Linked DNA regions of Homo sapiens: region 1 is linked to region 2. Evidence: fine-mapped expression QTL. Tissue or cell type: whole blood. Region 2 holds a variant in brackets; the other region holds the start of a gene. All regions are shown on one strand. Distances are between the middles of the regions.

Evidence for each region. PIP is the estimated chance that this variant, and not a neighbour inherited with it, causes the effect.
Region 1: it holds the start of PITX1-AS1, and the variant in region 2 is fine-mapped to the expression of PITX1-AS1 in whole blood (GTEx, PIP above 0.99).

The regions. Positions count from the first base shown.
Region 1 is chr5:135,028,561-135,036,662 of GRCh38, forward strand. PITX1-AS1 (PITX1 antisense RNA 1) reads left to right here and starts at 4,714. Exons shown (of 6, transcript NR_161235.1): 1 at 4,714-4,980. PITX1 (paired like homeodomain 1) reads right to left here and starts at 5,668. Exons shown (of 3, transcript NM_002653.5): 1 at 5,153-5,668; 2 at 2,716-2,948; 3 at 1-761. The coding sequence starts at 5,321. The coding sequence ends at 219. RefSeq lists enhancers at 543-1,227, 4,552-5,184 and a silencer at 3,174-3,381.
Region 2 is chr5:135,435,361-135,443,462 of GRCh38, forward strand. No RefSeq gene overlaps it. Among named protein-coding and RNA genes, the nearest start is that of DCANP1, 7.9 kb to the right of the region's middle. RefSeq lists enhancers at 1-1,094, 1,919-2,078. The variant G/A (reference allele first, on the strand shown) is at 4,491.

The DNA of each region.
Region 1 (8,102 bases), 410 kb before region 2:
TTTTTTTTTTTTTGTCTTTTTGGAGGGCAGAGTGGGGTCCGGAAAAGCAAACACAAAACCAACCCGGAGTGGGAAGTGGGAGGAGGGGGCTGCGCAGGTGTGAGGTCCGCGGCGCGGTGAGCTGGGGCTTGCGAGCCGGGGCCCCGCGTGCGTCCTCCGCGCCCGCGCCCGCGCCCTTCCCCGCTCCGGCCGCCGGCCCGCGTGGTGCGGCGGGGCGGTCAGCTGTTGTACTGGCACGCGTTGAGGCCCGAGGCCGGGCCCTGCAGGCCGCCGTAGCCAAACGACGAGTGCTGTTTGGACTTGAGCCGCAGGCTGGCTAGGCTCGAGTTGCACGTGTCCCGGTAGACGCTGTAGGGCGAGGCGGGAGTGCCGTACGGGCAAGCGCCCGGCGACATGGCCGAGTTGAGCGAGGAGCCGGTGAGGTTGTTGATGTTGTTGAGGCCCGAGTTGGGCATGCCAGGCACGGCGCCTGGGCCCATGCTGGACGGCATGGTCATGGAGGAGATGGAGCTGGGTGCTGAGAACATGGACTGCGACGACAGCGGGCTCATGGAGTTGAAGAAGGTGAAGCTCTTGGTGGAGAGCGGCGCTGGCGCCAGGCTCTTGGCGGCCCAGTTGTTGTAGGAGTAGCCGGCGGCGTACACGTCCTCGTAGGGCTGCACTAGGCCGCTGAACTGCGGCACGTAGCCACCCTTGCACAGGTCCAGCTGCTGGTTACGCTCGCGCTTACGCCACTTGGCTCGCCGGTTCTTGAACCAGACCTGGGGGAGGGGACGGGAGAAGGGTCAGGGCCGCTGCGGGCCGGGAGGGACCCCACCCCCTTCCCCACCGCCTGGAGCCTTCCGTCGGCCCGCTGCCCTCCGAACGTCGTTTCTCTCCTTCGACCGATATTTCCGCTCCTGCATTCCCTCCACAATGGTTCCTTTCCTGTCCCCAGAAAATACTAATTTCTTTTTCCGATCTTTATCCTCTCCCGAAATTATATCCGTTTTCTTCTCCGAATACGGATTCTCGTTTAACAGATATTCGTTTTCTTTCTTCCTCTCTCAACCAGTTCACCTCTGCCTTCTCCCCCAAACAGGTTCGCTCTATCTACTAAATATTTCAGTCTTTTTATTCTCCCTCAAATACAAAAGGTATTTTTCCTCCCTGAGACATAGGACTTTCCGACTCCCCCAATTCTTCGATCTATTTCATCGCTCAAATAGTTTGTTATCATCTTTATCGGCAATATTTGATGTTTTCTTTTTGGCTCCAAATGTTTATTTTCGTTCAGTCCACCCCACTGTCTGAACCTCTTTCTTCTCCCTCAGTCTGTTTTCTTGTTTATCCCCCATTTTTGATCCTTTTGAATCGTCCTCAAATATTAGGCTTTTGAATCCTTTCCAAATATCTGACCTGCACTGTTCCCCTTAAACAGTTGATTCTTTTTCTCAAATACCTGATCTTTTTGCTTCCTATTTAATTTCTTTCCTGCCGCCTAAATATATGCCAAATATGTTTCTCCACAAATATTTAAATTTTTTCTATTCTTACTAGATTCTTCTAATCTTCCTGCCCTTCCTTTTCTCCCCCCAAATTTGGTAAGAACCTCCTAGTCCTCCCCCATCCTTACCTATCTGCCTACCGCATGCCCTCTGCCCACTCGGATTTTCCTCCAGTTCTGAGTGGAGTTTCCTGAGCTAGTTTGCCAGATCCCTGCTTCTCAGCTTTCCCTAGTCCCCAGCACTGACACTACCTGATTCCACCCCCACCCACCCCTACCACCATAAACCTGGGCAGGATTAGTGAGTTCAGGATTACTGAGTGCTGTGTCTTCATTCCAAGTCCCACTGGGCTGGCCAGCCTGCCTAGGGAGGGGTGAGGGCTGGGGTTATGGTAAGGAGTCTGTGGGCCAGCTGGGATTTTGGTCGACTTGGGAGGTGCTCCCAATATCTGATTAAATATTTACGCCCCCAGGGAAGAAATGATTCTCTTGCTACCCTGGCAGGAAAGCCTTGCTTTTACTGGAAACCAAACGGGTGAGAAGAGGGAGAATGCAGGCTGGTCTTGGGTCTGAGATGGCATATCCTAAAAGGGACTGGGAAGGACATTTGGCTCCCGGAGCCACCCCCCACCTCACCTGACGGGAGACCTTCCGGAAAGGGCAGAAGGCAAAGGGTCCTACTGATGGCTGGGGAGGGTGGAGAATATCTTGAGCTTTTAGAGAATCTGCTTATGAGATGGGACCACTGCTCCAGGAAGTTTTGAGAGCCCCAAACCCAGGCACCTTTCAGGCTTCTCCGAGGCAGCCAGACAGGACCTGCCTTTCCCTTTCGTTTTCGGGATAAGGCCAACAGCTCCCGAGGTCCCCAGCGGCAGGGAATCCACTGCCCAGTCTCTGGCCCAGGGTATCCTGCTAACATCTGAGTGGGTCCTGGGCCCCATAGGGCATGGGGGAGTCCCCTGGGGGCACAGGTCTTTGGGCTGGGGTTGCCTTAGTCCGAGGATCAGGTAGGATGAGGGTCAAAGGGGTTGAAGGTCCGAGGCGCCTGGAGGCCTGGCAGACGCTAGTGGGCCAGGGCCTAAGGTGGGGATCTCCGGTGGAGGGAGGGAGCAGGTCTGAATGGTGGGAGAGTGAAGTTCTGCTTGTGGGTCTAAGCTTTGGAGGGCTGCAGCAGAGGCGGCCCGGGAGCCCTCTGCGCGGGTGCCCTTAGGCGCGCACCCCTTGCTCACCCGCACGCGCGGCTCGGTGAGGTTGGTCCACACGGCGATCTCCTCCCTCATGCTCATGTCGGGGTAGCGGTTCCTCTGGAACGTGGCCTCTAGCTCTTGCAACTGCTGGCTTGTGAAGTGCGTACGTTGCCGCCGCTGCTTCTTCTTCTTGGCTGGGTCGTCTGCGCCGCCGCAGCCCGTGCCTCCCGCACCACTGTCCTCGGGCCCCTTGGGTTCCCCGCCGCGCTCCTTCTCTGCAGTAGGCAGGACGGGGAGCGGGTCACCTGGGCTTACGCCCCGTTGCACCCCGTCCCGGCTCCACCGAACCGCTCGCCACCAGCGCTGGCGGTCTTCCCTCCCTCCCTCCCTCTAGGGTTCCTGGGAACTGTCCCCACTGGAAAGCGCCCGCCGGGTGCTGGTCGTCAGTAGGCACCTCTAGTCTGGTGTGCCGCGGAGAAGAGCCCAAGAATCGGAGCTGGAGCCGCGGGCCTGCGTTCCTGGCTGGGCAGGGCCTGCACCCTTAGCTCGGCTCAGATTCTGACCCTGCTGCTGATGTTCCCAGCAAATGTATGCTTTTTGTTTGTTTGTTTTGCGAACTCTTAGGGGGTCTAAATCTGAGGGGGTCTCTGCTTTTCTGAACTAGGATCAGATCTCTCCAGCCTAAAGTCCCTCCACTTTCTTCTCCTCAGGGGTGTATGGGAGCCCCACTGGGCAGGCACAACACAGCCGGGTTCTCGGCCTTGCTTCCAGGCCTCCAGTCCCAAAGCCTAGAAAACCCCACCAACTGCAGCCCAGACAGACAGACTCTGTCTAGGTGACCTCGGGCTTTAGTCTGTCTCTCTTTGAAGCTACACAAAACACACGCAGTCATAGAAACATTAATACATAAAGAAAAAGAGTTTAAAAACAAAACACAGAAGCCCAGAAAAGCTCACAGCTCTATGCCTAAAGACACTGAAAGGGCCACAAATTCTCAAAATCAGACAGGAAGAAACACAGAGCAAATGTAAATTAAGAAGCCAGAAAGCTCCGTACAAACACACCCCTAACTAAATACAGAGCTGTAAGTGTATAAACTCCAGGTTGACAGAAGCATTTATTTCTCTGGGATTTAAAAAAATAATGTACCGTTGTAGATAGATTTTTAACTCCTTCCCAATAAGGCCCTTGTAGAGATAATTTTTAAATCCCAGAGAAACACATTATAGTTAGATAATTTAAATTCCCCAAATAACACCACTGTAAATGGATTTTGAGAAAATTCCGGAGAAACGCGCCATTTTGGATTGACTTTTTAAAATCTCCGGAAGAATAATGTTGCATGTAGATATTTTAAATTCCAGACCTACACTTCGTACGTTAATTCTTTCAGAATCGAAAGATACAGTTAAAATTAATTCATCCTCATAGATTTGGTTCAAAAAAATCAATATACGATTATATATCTCTCTAGGTTTTAAAAATAAAACCAACCAAAGACCGCGCTTAAAACTTTTGAAAACAAAAGTAGAGTTCAGCGTTGATTATGTTTTAACCAAGCAAACAACCTCTCAGAAAAATCACTTAGGGATGCAAAAGAGAAACAGATACTAAGAAAGTGGAGAGAAACATTCAGCTGTGTATTAAGAAATGAACGCAGAAGAGGCGCCCACACCGGGGAGCTCGGAGCCCCTCCGGAACCCGGCCGGCTGCGCTGGGCAGCGGATTCGCTGCCCCACTGCCCGCGCCGGCCACCCGCGGGCCCAGTTCGCTGCTGGAAAAAAGCTCCAGCTCGGACAAAAAAAGGCAGCGCGGAGGGAGACGCGCAGGAGCCGGGGCGGGGGCCAGAGCCGGGCTGCTCCGGGCTTCGGCCGCGCACGTGGGCCGGATCCCTTGATCGGCGTTCCGGCTGGCCTTGCTGGGAGTCCGGCCGCGCCTGTTGGCCCGCTCGCCCTCACCGTCCTCTGTGTCTCCCTTCTACTTGATGACCCCTCTCCCCCCGTTTACCCTTCCCGCCCGCCCCTTCTCTTTGGTCTCTTTCATTCTGTCGCCTACTGTCACGGTGTTAACCTCCCTCTCTGTCTCTCTGAGTGCGTTCTCTCGCCCGTCACCCCTCTTCCTTTCTCGGTCTCCTCCTCTCCCTTCGTCCGAGCCGCTCCTTAGCGCCCAGTTGCGCAAATCAAATTCTTTCCCGTTCTATTTACTCCTGATCAAGAGGGGCTGTCAGTCCAACCCTCCAGCTGTAGGCTCGTGCATCTGCCAGTCTCTTGGCGCGTGGGGACCGCGTGGAAGTGCCTTCGCGTGTGCGTAAGTTTCCGCGTTCACCGTCAGGTCGAGAACGGGAAAAAGAAAGCTCCTGACGCTTCTGGGGCGGAGAGGGAGCTTGGTTGCGCGGCGCGGGCGTCAGGCCCTGCTCCCAGCTCCCCGTGCTCCGCGCCCGGGTAGGCTCTGTGCGCGCCGCGCGGGGAACGGCGCTTACCTGGCAGCTCCGTGTCAGACGACTCGCTGGCGGAGTTCTCGAGCGGCTCGCGGGGGTCGGCGGGCCGGGCCAGGTGGAAGGCGGGCCCCATGTCATGGGGTGGCGGCGGCGGCGGCCGGAGCCCCTCCGGCAGCCGCTCCAGGCTCATGCCCCCCTTGAAGGCGTCCATGGAGGTGGGGACCGCGGCGGGCGCTCCAGGGGCCGGGGCTGGGCGCGCCCCGCCGCCCTGGCTGCGACCTGCGGGGACAAGAGCGCAGCGCCTAAGCGGCTGCCCTCCAGGGCTGCCGGCGCCTGCAGCGACGCCGTGCCCGCCCCATGGACCGCCCGGGGCTGCGGCGCCGGGCGGGCAGAGGCGGCGGCAGCTTCTCGCGACTGGGCGCCTGGCTCAGCGCTCCGCGCTGCGCTCCTGCCGCTCGGGCCTCAGCAGCCCGGCCGGCCCCGGCTCCGGCTCCGGCTCCGGCTCGCGATCCGGGGCCGGTTTCTAAGGCTCCGGACGGCGCCGGCAGAGTCTGTCTTAAAGCGACAGCGCGCACAGCCAGGTTCCAGCAGTCCCTGCGCCAGGGGTGCTGGGTGGGGTGGGCCTGGGTGGGAGGGGGCTGGGGAGGGAGCGAGCGAGCGAGGGAGCGCGGGCGGAATCCAGCCCCAAGCCGCCCGCGCCGCCGCGCCCTCACTGCCGCCCTCCCTCCCTCCCTGCCTCGCCCGCGCCCTCCCCCTCCGCAGCCACCTTCCCGCCGCCTCCCCGCCCCCCGCGGCCTCGCCGCGCCTCTCCCTCCTTCCCCGGTGACACACCGAGTTCTCCCTCGGCCTCACAAAAGAAACGCATCTGGCCTGCGAGTCCCGGGCGGCTCGTGCACACCTCAGGCCTCAAATGACTTGTTTCGCCTAGAATCAACTCCCGTCTCGGCCGCCTCGAAGTCCCCAGCCCTGGCGAGAACAGCCCAGGATGAGTGAATGTTTGCCGAACAGGATCGCACCGAGCGGGCGCCTTCGAGCCAGCGCCGGGGCGGGGGCAGAGCCCGGGGCCCGTTCCGGCAGCTCCCAGCGGTGTCCTCGTCGAGGGGCCGCCTGCCCCTCCTTCTCCAGCCTCTTCTCCCGGGAACTCAGCCCGGCTGAGTGACAGCAGCCTGCGCTCTAATGGGCCCCCGGATGCTGCCTCCTAATTAGCTTGGACCTTCTCCCCTACGGCTGCTTCTCAGGCCTCCCTCTCTGCACCGCAGTCAATTTTCCGGGATTGGGATAGAAATGATGGCTTCTAATCAGACGAAACGTTTCTGCTGGCTCTAGGCGTTTGGAGAATGCAGAAGGAAGACCCCAAGGATCCCAGCCAGACCCCACAGCCTCTTGTACCTCTCCCCTTGTTTTACACCTTAGGCCTTGGCCAAATGGGCCAGGCCTGGCCTTGGCAGGCATGGGGTTGGCCTTGGCAGCCTTTGCCCTCCTTCAGGGTAGCTTTGTCCCAGCCTGGGGCCTGCGTCCTGGCTTCCCAGGGCTTCAGGCATAGGCCTGGTAAGCCAGGTGACTGCTGTCTCCCAACCCTGGGCCAGCAGCCCAGGAAGCCCTCAGTCTTCCAGCTTCTCTCCCACACAGTGGTAGCTGAGCTGCAGCTCCAATGGGCCTTCACTGGGCACAGGCAAAGACATTACTCTCCCACTCCTAAGAGTGATTCCCTCCTCGAGTCCTTGCACGTAGGTGAAGTTTGTCGAAGGATTTTGCTCAACAATTGTTAGCTGGCCCCGAGACCTCAGCGTCTTGAGCAAACAGGCCACAGCTGGGGCGGCAAGGCGCCGCCCTGACCTGCTCCTCTGGCCATAGGCGGACCCCAGACTGCCCTCTGCCCCTCACCTGTGATCAGCTCCACCAGACACAGCAACCCAAGGGAGCTGCGCCAGGATTGTCTGCCTGGGAAAGAAGCAGGGAGGTGTCCAGTGTCCTCACCCCAAAACCCAGTGCCTCCTCAACTCCTGGGTGGGTGGCACTGACTGTGCAGGTATCAGCGTCTGGGGCACTCTGCAGGTTCTGCCTTTGAGTCCTCGTCTTACCCCTTCCCATCACAGGGAGACACCCAGGGTCAGCTGAGCTCCTTGTGGGGGCTGCTGGGGCCAGGGTCGGGCATGCAGGGTGGAACCAGGCCTGCCTTCCATTCCCTCCACGTTAGTCCAAAGCACCCCCACCCCTACCCCCATCCCCATCCCCATCCCCATCCCCATCCCCATCCCCATCCCCCGCTCTGGGCCGTGGAGAGACAGCACAGCTCCTTAGGGCCTGGTCCTTTCTCACTGTGGGTCTGTGACCACAGGATGCAGGGTCTGAGGCCAGAGGGAGGACACTTCTCAGGGGTTTGGATTGGGGAGGCTCAGTGACTCCTGCCTTCTTCCAAGCTGAGATCTCCCTCCATGAAATGAGTCTTGGCTACGGGGAGGGGAACATGGGGAAGCACAGTTGCCCAGCATTTGCCCTCAGCCCCACCGTTGCCATGTTTCTTGGCCACCTTTACCACGAGTCTCCTGCAGTAGAAGATCCCTCCTTTCAAGGAGATATTCAGGTGTTGCAGCGTGCTAGGGAGTGTCCCTTCACAGACCATTCTTTTTTTAGCTGTCTTACCAAAAAGAACAGCCTGAATGCAGACAGCATGGGGGCACGCACACACACACACATCCTGTACATCCATGCGGAGATGCTGTACACACACATGTATTCACTGCACTATGGAAGTGCTGAGTTTAGGCATATATGTGCTACTTGGCATGAACGCGGGCTGGCAGGGGATAGGAGGTGTGTTCTAACCCTGCCACATGTCAGGCCAAGGTGGGAAGCACAGTGCGTCTCTGGGTAGAGACTTAGAAATGAATGGTCTGTCTGTGGGCCTCTAGAGGAGGTTAAGACTCACAGCCTTCTCACTTGCCTTCTCACTTCCCAGAGGGACCAAAGTGACTCTTTGGGCCATCCCCCA
Region 2 (8,102 bases):
TCTTTCACCTTTGCACGTCTTGGGTTTTTACTGGCAGAGGAAATGAAGGCTGAACTGGGGCAGGAAATTCCATGTACACAGGTGTTTCTGATTAGCCCCGTGCACCTCACCCAGGGGCACAACCAGGGGCTGAGATGCCTGCATGAGCCCATGGGCCCCTCTCTGGCTTGGCAACTGTGGCAGCTTTGCATCTAGGGAAGGCTGGACAGGGCACTCACACCGTTGCAGGGCAGACAGAGGTGCCAACCAGTGGTCTGCTGCCTGGCCCTGGGAACCCGGTGACATTCTGCCATGGACACGAGATCACACAGCGCCCTTGGCCAGAACCACCCCAGCCTCTGTGTCTGCAGTGGGCTGCTGGTGGCACCAGGGCCTGACCTGGAGATTAGCATCGCCCTGAGGTGTGTTTACACATTGTAGCTGGCGCTTCATGTGGCTGACCTGCCCCCATTTTCACATCTTCAGAGGGGCTTAGAGATCCAAAAACCACCTCCTCCTTTACTTAAAGGGTCTCTGGAGGGGTCGGGGAGGGCAGCCCTGGGCTTGGCTCAAGATGGCCATCTGTAGCAGTGGTTTCAGAGGCTGAAGAAGCAGCTTTCTTCATCCCATACCAGCTTTTCACTGCCACTGAAGCATCCCACCATTGTTATTCACTGCCATGGGTAAAGGCACTCGGGGCTCCCGTTACACTTAGAGTATACCTGGAGGGAGGGGCATTCCAAGAAATGGCTCATGGAGACACACTGGCTGGCTCTGGGCAAATGTCCACTCCAACCCTACCCACCTTGGTTTTCCCATCTGTAAAATGGGCATCATAGGAACAAAGTCTGCTGGATCAGCACATGGATTAATGAGATAGTCTGCAAAACATCAGGCACATAGAGGATCCACAAAGCATGCAGCCCCTGGGAACATTCTCAAGGGAATTGTTCCAAAGAAAAAGTATTTGATGAATACTTTGAAGTATTACATTAACCATTGCAAAAACATTTTAACCAGTTAAAATGCTCATTGGTTAGTTATAGACTAAGGTGTATTGTGACATAATAATGTGTAACCAATAAGCTCAATATGACAAGGATGGAGCCATATGAAATTCCAAGAAATAACTGAGGAAAATGAGTCTGTGTAGCCTGATTACAACTGTGAGAAAGTGTGTACCCTGAGGAAGATTGGAGGGGCATGTAAGTAAATGTTTATTTAAATACATTTCAGTTATCCACGTAGTTAAATGCATATTAAAACACGAAAATTAAATAAGAGCAGAGACAGATATGAATGTGTCTAAGTTATCAAGTTCCTACTAGGAGAAGACTCCATGTCATCAGTCCAGGACAGAATGTATGTGGTCCCAAACGCTGGAGAAAAGCCTGTGGCTGAGCTTTTGCCCCGTAGGGAACACGGAAACAGTCAACAGAATGCATGTGGCCACCACACGAGGTTCTGGACTCAGACTGGGCATCCTGGGGATCTTGGAGGCTATGGGGCTAAGCCACCGTCATAGTAAGCCCCTTTTAACAGCCTAGGGCCTCATGTCTCCCCCTGCCCCTGTCACCTGGAGAGAGACCTGGGCTCCTGAGGAGGGGCTGGGAGTGGAGCCTCACCCACATCCTCAGGACTCTGAGTGACACTCTGCTGACCCTGTTAGCTGCAGAGTAAGAGAAATGTGTTTTCATTGCTGTTACGAGTTTCCAGGCTGGGCAGCGAGCAGCCCCTTTAGAAAGGACCTCTTGTTCTTAGTGAAACACAAATAAATGTCTGTCGTGTGGGGCTATGTGAGCTGGGAGGTGGAGGGGGCTAAATGGAGAACTCAGAGAGCTGGCTACCTTGTCCCTGGGCCCCTGCCCAGTGGGCAGCAAGGCATAGCCAGGGGCTGTCCCTCTCTCTCAGCAGACGGCCCATCCTTCAAGGTATGACTTCGTCCCTGCCCCGCTCAGAAACCCCTTCTGCCCAGACCAGCCTTTGTCAGGTTGAGCTCAGAGTCCTTCTGGAATCTGGATGTGGTCCTGGGTCCCTGGAGGGCAGAAGCTGGGCCTCACCATTTCTGTGCTGCACCCGCCACAGCCCCCACACCCAAGGCTCTCAGGATGAATCTCGGTACATTGCGACTGAATTGCCGTGGATGAAAATAACGGTTGGAATGGCAGCAGTGGCTTGTGAATTTCAATTCCTCTTCTAAAACCACTTGCAGATATTTCTGCTGCTTTCTTCCCCTCTCCCCTCCCCCCTCTTCCCTCCCCTGAAACAGGAATTATGAGACAGTAACGCACACTCCTTTTGCATTTGCGGCTCCTCTTGTGGCCATCGGTATGGTTCCTTCAGGGACTGAGCCTGCTGTGACTCACTTCCCAGTCCCCCAGGCCCCAGCAAGCACCATCAGATAGGAGGCTTGTCACCTTGGAGGGAAGGGGGCAAAAAGATAATTTCCAAACATTGAGGCCTTAATGTCGGTCAAGCACGGTGCAGAGTCCTTCACAGGCACCCCCATTTTATCCTCCCAGACACCCTGTAAGACCTGTGATACTCCTGTTTCACAGAAAGAAGAAACTGAGGCTGGGAGAGGTTGAGCTCTTGCCTAAGGTCACAGAGCCAGTAAGTGGTAGAGCTGGGATCCAGACTTTGGCTGTCTGAGACCGAAGTCTAGGCTTTTCTTTGCTCTAAATCCCTCAACTCAACTTCTCTTTTGTCTGAGGAATTCTAGGAAGTGTTGGTTCTGTTTCTCATCAGTGGGGCCTGATGCTCCCCATGGTCTCTGGGCACTTGCACGTCATCCCAGAGGCAAACCTTGGGTATGCAGAGCCTTGTCCCAGGGTCCAGGATGTTCAAGACCAGCTGGAATCAGATGCCTTCTGGCTCCTTGCCCTGCCACGTGGAAATGCCATTTGTAGTGAGCCGGCTGTCGTTGGAGAGCTGCCTTTAGGTGCAGTGAGTCAAAGGACCACATGGAAATACTTTAGCCTGAGGCGGCGCTAGGAGCAGCCCTGGCTTGTAGCCATGAACGGCAGCAGGTCCAATAACACTGAGTTCCAGGTATGCATGTTGCCAAGAAGGGAGAGCAGTTTGGAGACCGACCAGCTCCTCTGGCTCATGCAAAAGCCCCTACACAGTGCTAGGCACGTGGTGCTCAGTAAACATAGGTTCCCGTTCTCTGTGAGAGGAAGGCCTTGGCCCTGTGCACTGAGTGTCCTGGTAATGGAATGCTCTACGCTCTGGCTGTCTTGGGCTGGGGGAAGAGGGAGAATCTACACCAGGAAACCATAGGCTCCTGAGGTTGAATGCAAGTTGCGTGTGTTCCTATGTGCAAAGAGAAGCCATAGCTATCATTTTCTGAGGTGTCCAAGACCCACAAAAAGCCAAAGACTGCACTACCCGAGAGACTGCAGCAGGAATGAGTGGATTAAGCCATTCAGCATGTCCAGACATACAAAATCACTGGGGACAGCTGGCTGAGGGAGACAGGCCAAGCTAGCACACGCATGTGAGGAAGAGGAATGGGCACTCAGGCCAGGCCAGCTCTCTGAGCAAAATGGAGCTCCTTCACGCTTCCCTTCCCGGCCTGACCACACAGGCTGCAGAGCACAGGGGCCCGCTTAAGGCCTTCAGGGAAGATGGCCTCCCCCAACATCATCTGTGAACCTCATCTCCAAGCTCAGAGCTTCCTCCCAGGTGGGGTTGCCCCTTCTCAGAGCTCCAATTTCCCCATCAGCCTTGGGCCGTATATCTTCCCCTTCTTTCTACGGGCTGCTTTATAGCTTGCTGGAAACACCTTCCCTTAGCACTTCGAAATGTATCACTTGAAAGCATCTTAACGTTAATCAATGTGATTCTTTTTTAATTTGAAGGGGCTTATTTCTCCAAATGGCTTTCCTGATCTTATAGGAGGGCATGCTCTCTAATATTAAACTTTTTCTTTAAAAAGAGCAAAAAAAATGACTCACATCTGTTTGATATTTAATTCAAATTGAATGGCAGGACAGGAACGAAATTACACTGCAAAGGGCCATAAAGCGTGATGTTTAAAAGAGCCAAGCATACCAAACCTACATGCCAGAAAATTTGAAATGACAAAGGATTGAGGGGGTGTGGCCTGGGCAATGGAGTATCTCCTACCCAGAAGCTGGAGGGGAAGTAGCCAAGCTGGGGGAAGGTGGGAGGTGGGAGAAGGTCTCATTTTGCACGGGAGGACTTTGTGGGGGCTGGTTTCCAGCCACATGTGAGTTTGGGGGTCTGGGATCTGAGCCCCAAGCAGAGGTCCTGGAATCCAGTGCTGGCTGCTCCATGTTGCGGGGCGGGGTGGTGGCCTGTCTGGGGATCTCCAAGGGGCTGCTGGGTAACGCTGCATGCAGCCTGGGTGGTCAGCCAGGCACTGTCCAGCTCTCGGTGTCCAGGAGGCCTTGGGGTTTGGCTACAGCTCAGAGAATTGAGTTTAAAGCCCTTCTGCTGCCTTCTGATCAGTTTAGCAGAGACACCAACATCCTGTGTCCCAGAGG[G/A]CAGAGAAATGGGTGGATCTCAGAGAGCTGTGTTTTCCTCCAATCTTGGAAGGAAGGCACCCTCTGAATGTCACTGTCCCCGAGCTCTGTGACAGAAGTCCTAGGAAAGAAGTGAGTGTGACCTCTTACTTAATATTCCCTTAAAGCCAGAGGGCCAAGTCCAGGCCTGGCACAGGCACTCCAGTTGTGAACCGTGTCTGGCGATGCCTGTAAGGTGAGCTTTGACAGTGGAGTGCAGTCAGAGCTTGTGTGCTGGTGTGGGCTGCCCCTCACCAAGGCCACGAAGGGAGGGGTGGAGACAAGAGAGGGGTTTAGAGTAAATCAAATGCCAGCTGAGTGGGCTTGGCCTCCCTTTCCCTCTCTGATCCTGTTTCCTCATCTATACCATGGAATGGTTTAACATCCTCAAAGTTATTTTAAATATCTAGTATGATAAATATAAATGAATTCACTTTTAAATAACAAAATATTGTACGTGTTTCTTAGAATGGTAACTCTGGCCTTTCCAGGGCTTCTGCTTAGGTACCAAGTTTATTTCCAAGACATTAACTTGTTTTTCCAGCCAGCACTTGAGCACAAGGGTCTGGAACTTTTTCCATGCAGTGGTGCGCTGGAACTGTCTCACAGTGTTTGATAAAAGCTGATTGTTAAATGATTAAATTATATTTAATGACTCATTAAACTGTTAAATTTTTAATGTAACTAAGTTATTAACAATTATATGAACTTATGGCAAAATGATATTAAATACAAAGTGAATAAATAAATCAAAACTCACTGCTTCCTAATTATTTTACTATACCTTACTATATCTATGGCCTTGGGGCTATTTACACTGATTGTATCTGTGTGGTGGGAATGCCACATGATGGTGGGCTTACTGTGTGTCTCTTTCCAATTCCACATTCAGTGATGTCATTTTGATACCTTGAAGTTGACTGTGGTAAGACAATTTACATCACGGACATCAGCAAACACTACAATCAGAGCGCCTCTGCCACTCAGAGAGCTGCTAAACATTTGTCAGCACAATTCTGTCTGTAGAGATGGGCAAAATGAAGTGTGCAGAGCTCCTGGTGACTTTCTCAGAATCGCTCAGCCATGCTGAACGTCTTCCTTTCAATCCAGTGCTTTCTTCATCAGACTTAGCTGTTCCAGCCTTCTCAGGAACTTGTGGCCAGCTCTTACGGCATGCATCCCTTTATCCAGAACACTCTGACCTTCCCAGCATGCTCCCCTACCATTCCTCTAGTGGGGTCGCTTCTCTGCTTCTGTTTTCCTCTGAGCTAAGCCAAAATATTCACTCCGGTGTGTAAAGCGGGCTGAGAATCTCAAGTGGAAGTATTTTCCCTTTCTATAACTGTGGAGCAAAACTCACAGCTCATAATTATCATGTGGTTTTCTAACCAACACTTTACCTGGGGTGCTTGACAGAGCCCAGAGGCAGGTGTGTGTGTGTATGTATGCATGTGTATATACATGTGTGTGTGTGCATGCAGGTATGTGTGTATGCATGTGTGTATGTATGGATGGATATGTGTATGCAGGGGTGTGTGTGTGTGTGTGTATGCGTGCGTGTGTGTGTGTGTGTGTTGGGGAATGGAGAGGGGAAGGAGAAGTCAGACCACATGAGGCTTTCTGATGTTTTGGCTTGAATTCTGCACTGCAACCACAGACCCTGTAGGCCCAGGGGAAGAGGAACGTAAAACTGAAAGACAGAGACCCCCGAGGATTAGCTTCCTGCCTTGGCCTCCAAGAGTGTCCACAGGGGACGACCATGTGTTTCCCAGTAATGAGGCCCAGCGCTGGATCTGGAAGCCTCTAACGTCAAGCTTCCAGCCTGCCTGCTTCTAATACTCCCGGGGCAGCTCTCCAAGTTTGGGAGCTCTGGACCTTGTGCGTGTATTTCTGAGTGGGAAGGGCTGGGTGGTCGTGTCACACCAAGGAGACGAGGCCCATCTGGAAACAGGAAACCCTGTTGGCAGGTAGCAGAGGGATGGGGTGTGGGGCCCTGCGTGGCCCTGCTGGAATTTGCCATGGGCTTCCGGGCTCAGGGTCCCCTGGATACCGTGGTTCCATTCACTGAGCAAGACCGCTGACCCTTCCTCTTCTCACTCAGGGCACTTATTTATTTAAAATATATTTTCCCCTTTTTGTCAGGAGCTGTATTGTGGTTTGACTGAGGTTCTTCTCAGAGCTTTGACCCTAGTGGTCTGCTTTCACCCCACCCAAATTCTTCCTCTCAACTCTCTCTCCTGTCAAGAGAGCCCTGACTGAGGACCTACTGTGTGTAGGTGGCTGCTCACCTACAGACATGTCCAAGACGGCTTCTGCCACAGGCAGGGCTCTGCCTGCCAGTGGGAGGTTCCAGCCGACTGGCATGTGAAATGGGCCCAGCCCTGCACCTGGCACACTCATGTTGTGTTTTTCATCTTCACAGAGGTGAGATAGGTACTCATAGTATCCCCATTGTATAGGTGAGGGAAAAGTGGCTTGGGGGAGGAAGGAAGTTTCTGGATTCTGTAAGTGGAAGGCAGTGGGATTTGGGCCTGTTGGCTTCCTGAGGACAGGTGTCTCTGCCCTGCCCTCTGCCTATCTCGGGAGCTGGTGTTCAAAGCAGGGCATCTGGGTGAGTTGTGTGTGGGTCCAGCCAGGCTGTACCTGGGTCTTCTCTGTGCTTCATCTGTGGTACTTGCCCTCCTCCCTCCATCCTTACAGATGCTGAAGGTCACATAGGTTGGGGTGACAATGATGGTGGGGACCTATGTTTGCCCCTCAGGAGTCCCTGCAGGGTGGAGTCCTCTGTGGTGTGGCCTCTCCTTCCTGCTCTCCCTACTTGGTGGCCACCCCAGGGCCCCAGGCGAGGCTGAGGGGCACTGACATGGCCATGGTCTCTGTACTGGCCATTTGGCTGTTTGTCGTCAGGACCGTGATTCTCTCTTTCATCCCCTGCTCTGTACTGCGGGGAAGTTGACCCCTGGAGGCTGCATTTCTCAGGCTTGCCAGTCAGCTTTCCTCTGGCTGGCTTCAGCCAATGGGGTTTGGGGGGCCAAAGAAGGAGAGAAGCCAACGTATTCATTCCTCTGTCAGCCTGTCAAGTGGAATCACCTCATCAGCTGCTGGCGGCAGCTGCCTCTCCTCTGTGGCTCCTCTCCCTCTAGGTCCCAGCTACCATAGGGGGCCTCCATGGTATTCTAGCCCTGGGCTGGACATTCCCCACTGTGACTCCAGTAACACCCCCTCTCAGTTGCGCTCCAGCCTGGAGCCAGCAGTGGGAACAATCTCTGTTAATCTCTGAATTACATTCCCTATTTGGCTTCTCAGTGATTCCCTACCCAATTCCCTGAATTACATTTTTTGCATACTTAGACTGGCTTTTGTATTTCTGACTGGATCCTGAATGATAGGCCTCCCACTGAACAAGGTGACTTAATAGGGTCCATGTTCAGCCCATCTGTAGCAAGCCCTCTGAGCAAATGACATCATGACAGCCCCTGATCCCTCAGAGAAGCAATTATGGAAACCTCGTGTCTGGCTGCCTGGCTGTGCTCTCGCTCCAAAGGCCTATGCCTCTGCCTTATTCTGAAAACTCCCACCTCTATCCCCTGCCTC